Linked DNA regions of Homo sapiens: region 1 is linked to region 2. The links come from fine-mapping of genetic effects on gene expression. A gene starts in region 2. The other region holds a variant in brackets. All regions are shown on one strand. Distances are from middle to middle. Region 1 has its middle 27 kb from the start of PLA2G4D. Region 2 holds the start of PLA2G4F (phospholipase A2 group IVF).

What was found. PIP is the estimated chance that this variant, and not a neighbour inherited with it, causes the effect.
Region 1: its variant is the best candidate, but not a certain one, in a credible set for the expression of PLA2G4F in esophagus mucosa (GTEx, PIP 0.53).

What each region holds. Positions count from the first base shown.
Region 1 is chr15:42,120,528-42,123,439 of GRCh38, reverse strand. No RefSeq gene overlaps it. Among named protein-coding and RNA genes, the nearest start is that of PLA2G4D, 27 kb to the right of the region's middle. The variant C/G (reference allele first, on the strand shown) is at 1,754.
Region 2 is chr15:42,154,995-42,157,906 of GRCh38, reverse strand. PLA2G4F (phospholipase A2 group IVF) reads left to right here and starts at 1,271. Exons shown (of 20, transcript NM_213600.4): 1 at 1,271-1,468; 2 at 2,318-2,390. The coding sequence starts at 1,358. RefSeq lists an enhancer at 831-1,546.

The DNA.
Region 1 (2,912 bases), 34 kb after region 2:
CCCACCTAAAGCTCTCCTTTACATTTATGGCTTCAGAGAAGCCAACAATAAACTCCTCCCCAGACCTATATAGAATACTGGTTCAACCAAACAAAGCATTCACACTAATTATGTTTATGCACAAGCAGGATGAATTTGAAGTGCAGGCCAGAGGAGCCAGCCTAGGGAGTGGGGGCAGGAAGAGGCAGGGATTGCTTAATCTGAGGGGCGACTTCAGGTACAGAGAGGAACATGAACCATCAGGCATCATAGCATGTCCCAAGGACACTCACTTCCTGTTTCCCATTCAAGCTCCATGATCTAAGAATTTCATGTCAACCTGGAACTGCGGCTGCCCTCACCCAGGTGGTGCACAACACAGATTTGGGACAGATCCTCTCAGGACCCTCCCTCTAAGAAAGCCCAGCATTAGGGAAGGGGCCTGTGTTAGTTCAGGTGCTCTAAAGTGGCCAAGATGGGATTATTTGTGCCAGAGACTTGTTAAAGTAAACACCTGTGAATGAGGAAGGAAAGGGGCAGGAGAGCCTTCAGATTGTAATACCATTTGGACACCTATGAAAGGAGACAGGGAAGGAAGGGGCGATGGAAGGAAGGGCCTCAGACTCAGTTCTAAGAAAATTCCAGCCCGGCTGATGGGAGTCCTGGAGCCATAGTTGCCCATTAGAGGGGTCCCATATCCCACAGGAATGGGCAGACACTAGTGCCCCACCACGTTCTGTCTTTGGCTAGGAGTAACTCAAGAAAGCGTGGCCTTGGTGTGAACGCAGTGATAGCTCCAGAGGGTGGCCAGGGACTGGTGGTCACTATAAGCCTGCAGCAGGTTCTTTTGAAGGAGGTCTGATTTTCATGCTTGCCACAGGGTCTTCGGTGTTTCCCATTTCTTTCTGTCTTCTGCATTTATTTTGGGTTTTCTCTCTGTGTTCCCTATTTTATCACAAACTCTTGTTTTTAATAATATTGTTATATAGCCTCTGTTGAATACTTGTTTTGTGTCAAACATTTTACATATGTGTTTTCCTTTATCCTCACAATTCTGTGAGGGAGGTAATATTATTCATGTTTTATAGATGTAGAGACTGAGGCTCAGAGAATTGTTATTTATCCAAGAACATTAAAGTCAAAAGTGACAAAGCCATACCTTGAACTCAAACTCAGGGCTTTTTTTTTTTTTTTAATTCCAACACCCAAAGAATTAGCCACCATACTACCGTATGCCTTTGAGCACTTGGCTTTTTTTTTTCGCATCTTGTGTTTTAGGCATGAATGTGGAGAAAGTAAGGGGCCTGAGTTCAACAACAACAACAAAAAGTCTTTGCATTTGGGAAACTTCCAATGAAGCCAGATACAGGGCTGACAGGAGTGCCTTCAGCCTCCAGAGTGAGCTGGGCTGAGCCCCAGGGATAATATGTGTGTGTGTGTGTGTGTGTGTGTGTGTGTATCTGTGTGTATCTACCCTGATCTGACTGGCTGCTGTTACACCCAGGCCCTGAAACCCTGAGGGCCCCCTCAGCTCCACCCTGATCTGGGTGAGGACAGGCTTCCAGTGTGGATTGCACAAGGTACTTCTTGCAACCTGTGGACCCCTCCAGGGCCAGGCCCAGAGCCAGCCGGCAGAGCTCAAGCTCAGGACTAGGGCAGGGAGGTCCAGCAGGCTGTTAGTCACCAGTACCAGGGCTGGCCTGTCACTTGGCCTATTCTGCCCAGTCTGCAGTGCAGCTGAGCCCTTTCGGGAGTAGGCACAAAGGGTGAGCAT[C/G]TTTATGCTAATGACAGTGCTGACCACTCGCAGAAGGACTGAACAACCAGATGAGTGGGATGGATCGTCCAGTGGTTGTCAATCAGCCCTGTCCTCAGCCATCTTAATGTTTGTGCTCCCAAATGGAGCAGAGATGGAGGCAGTACAGGGGTCCAATAGCATAGGATCCCCATTCCAAGACTGACCTAGCTACTGACACTGCTGATTGTCGAACCTGCCAGCTGCAAAGACTGACACCGAGTCTGCAATAAGGCACCCAGGAGCTCAACTGACCGCTGATGGCAAGCTGATTATACAGGACCCCTTCTGTCCTGAAAAGGACAATTCATACTTACTGAAATGGACACACATTCTGTATGTGGATTACCTTTCCGGCTTCCTGCACCTCAGCAAGCACGACAATCCAACGACTTACACAATGTCTAATCTACATATGACTGTGCATAACAGCAACTTAGAGTAAGGGAGGCAGTGTGGTGCATATCACATCAACCACCAACTATTGCCCAATAGAGTGGCGAGATGGCCTCCTGAAGATGCATGGAGGAGCTAGTTTGGGGATAGTGTGCTATCTTCAGGATGCAATACACATCTGAAGCCAATGGCCATTGCATGTGCATTTGTCCCCACTAGGTAGAATGGATGGTCCAGGGTCCAAGCGGTAGAAGTAGGAGTGGCTCTGCTCATCACTATTCTAAGTGACCCACCTGGGGAATTTATGCTTCTCTTCACAGAAACTTTAGACTCTGTGGGTCTAGAGCTCCTGGTTCCTGGGGGCAGGAGCGGGAAATGCTTCTATTGGAGGACGCCATAGGAGTCCCAATAATCTTACAGCTATGGCTGCAGCCTGGCCACTTTGGCCTCCTCATGCTGGTAGATCAGCAGGCAAAGGAAGGGGTTACAGCTCCAGCAGGGGTAATTGATCTGATCATCAGGAAGACACAGAGCTGCTGCTATACAGTGGGATGATGGGGGCAGGGAGGAATATGTTTGGCACTCAGGTGATCCTGGGTTTGCTTTTTTCTATGTGAAATTTTGCATGTAAAAATGGGTAAATATAGCAACCATGGTCTGAGTAAAGCATAACTTGAGCTTCAGACTCCTCTGAGATAAAGGTCTGGAACACCCCTCCTGAGAGCCACAGAGAGCAGCAGGAGTG
Region 2 (2,912 bases):
GTGACTCTAGGCCTTGGGAAGAGTGGAGATGACTGAATCTTAGTTGAGGGACAGAAATTCTCTCCCTCCCACAGTTCACGGCCCCCGAGATCCTCACTCTTCCTGGAGACTGTGCCTGTCTCAGCCACCTTGATGGTTGTGGTCCACAGAAGAGCGAACATCACATCCATCTGCAGCCTAAGGCCTACGATGGCCAAAGAGAATGCTAAAGCCTGTATATCTGGTCGCTGAAGGATACGTAGACTTGTTGTTTGGCCTGTCCTTATTTATAACCCCCTGCCCATATGCCTGTCTGTACCTGGACACTGTACACTGACCCAGGAAGCGAGCCTGGGCCAAAGCCACAGGGAGTCATGAGACTGAATTTCTCCAGGATGTGGATGGGCCCGCCTCACCTCTGTCACCTTTGCGTTTCTGGGCCTAGCACAGGTCTGGCACCCACCAGGCTCTTGGTGTTTGGCGAATTAATGAGGGTGGTCAGGAGAGATTAAAAACATCTTTGATGAGTTCATGTCCTTTGTAGGGACATGGATGAAGCTGGAAACCATCATTCTGAGCAAACTATCGCAAGGACAGAAAACCAAACACCACATGTTCTCACTCATAGGTGGGAATTGAACAATGAGAACACTTAGACACAGGGCGGGGAACATCACACACCGGGGCATGTCGGGGGGCAGGGGGCATGGGGGAGGGATAGCATTAGGAGAAATACCTAATGTAAATGACGAGTTAATGGGTGCAGCACACCAATATGGCACATGTATACACATGTAACAAACCTGCACGTTGTGCACATGTACCGTAGAACTTAAAGTATAATTAGAAAATATATATAAAGAGAGAAACATCTTTGATCCCAGATGAAACACTGAAGCAGAGATTTCTAGGCTTCAGCTTAAGAGCCGCAGGGAAGGTGGGACTTGAAGGGTGGCTAGTTTCAGGCCTTTTCCACAGCTGGAGGAGACTCTTCCCTGATTTGCACTTGCCAGCTGGTCTCTGGGCCAGCTGTGCCAGCTTCACCTAGAGGTCTTGTTGGAAATAGCTCCGGTGTCTATTTTTCACAAACAGCCCAGTGATAACCAGGGCGCTGGGTTTGGGAACAAGAGTGCTAACCAGAGACCCCAAGAGTCTCTTGGAGAGGGACTGAGCTGCCTCCTGCCTGGGGAAATTAAGCTCCAGTCACTTCCTGGAGCATGTCAAACTCCACCTCCAGCAGGCCATCCAGCCTGAGTTCTCTGCAGAGCAGGCAGCTCCACCCTCCCAACTCAGTGCTGCCTGTCACACCTGAGCCAGCAGTTTGTGCAACCAGAGGAGCGCAGGCAGGGTTCCCTGCTGGGGCCCGGGCTGCCCAGCCATGCTTTGGGCACTCTGGCCAAGGTGGCTGGCAGACAAGATGCTGCCCCTCCTGGGGGCAGTGCTGCTTCAGAAGAGAGAGAAGAGGGGCCCTCTGTGGAGGCACTGGCGGGTAACGTACCTGAGATTACCTGGGAAACCCGGACTGGGGGAGTCCTGGGAGCTGCAGTGCCCTGTGAAGACTGAGACCAGCCCCAGCCCTGGGTTTTGAGTTGGGGTGGGACCTGTTTATTCTAGATGACCTGGCAGAGCTTAAATTAGACCTTGGCTCTTAAAAATAGCTCCCTCCGATTAGGAAATGGAGGGTTAGTTCACTTGACACTTGTCTGGGGTGGGTTGGCTTTCACCAAGGATGCGCGAGCCTGGCTGTAGAGTCCACGGAGCTGGTGGGGTTGTGAGGGGAGAGTTTCCCTCCCAGTAGGCAGCATGCTGATGTTATCTCTCCTAAGCCCAGCTGCAATCTGCTCGGTGACTCGTCAGACCGGTACCGGCCGGCCGGTGACTCTCGGCTTCCGCTCACCTGCTCGCTGCCTCCTAGACGGTCTTTGAGCCTCTGTCAGGGAGCAAGCAAGGGAGGGGGTGTCACAGTTTTCTCTTTTAATATTTAATCTTCTCAAGCACAACATTAGCACAGCTCTCACAGCTGCTCCCAAGCTAGAGTGGGGGCGCGAGCGTCTGAGGGGAGCTGCAGGTGTGTGGTGCGTGACAGCCATCGTTAGTTCAGTGAGTCCGTGCTGGATTTAGATTTGAACCCAGACCGGATGGGTTCCAGGGTCCAGACACATCACGAAGGTGCTGAACTCCCAATGCCTGGGACCCGCCAAGGTCTCCCTGCTCCCCGGCACAGAGACGTCAGTGACCCTATGCCAGGTTGCTGCTCCATGATGGGACGAGGGGAACAATGGGGCGAGGGACCAGGCTCACACTAGCTGACTGAGTCCCTGGAGTTCTGTTATTGCAGCGGGAAACCTACCCATACTATGACCTCCAGGTGAAGGTGCTGAGGGCCACAAACATCCGGGGCACAGACCTGCGTGAGTGACCCCATCTCCATCCTTCTCTCTGTCCTTTCCCTGCGGCTTCCTCAGAGCTCAGCTCAGGCTGGCTAACAGAGAGTGTGTGTGTGTAAGAGTATACATGGGTGAGTACAAGTGAGAGTGCATGTGTGTATACATGTGTGAGTATACGTGTAGGCATCTGTGCAAGTATGTGTGAGTGCAAGTGTGAGTACATGTGTATACGTGTGTGTGAGTGCGTGTATATGTGGTGTAAACATGTGAGTGCGAGTGTGTGGGAACACGAGTGTGTATATACATGCGTGCAAGTGTGAGCGAGTGTGTGAGTGCAAATGTGACTGCGAGTGTGTATACACATGTAGGAGTGTGTGAGTGCAAGTGTGAGTGGAAGTGTATATATGTGAGTGCGAGTGTGTGTGAACGTGAGTGTGTATGTGTGTATACGTGTGTGCGTGTTGTGTATGTGTGTCTGTATACATGACAGTGAGTGCCAGTGTGTGTGACTGAGTACGAGTGTGTGTATATACGTGTGTGTGTGCC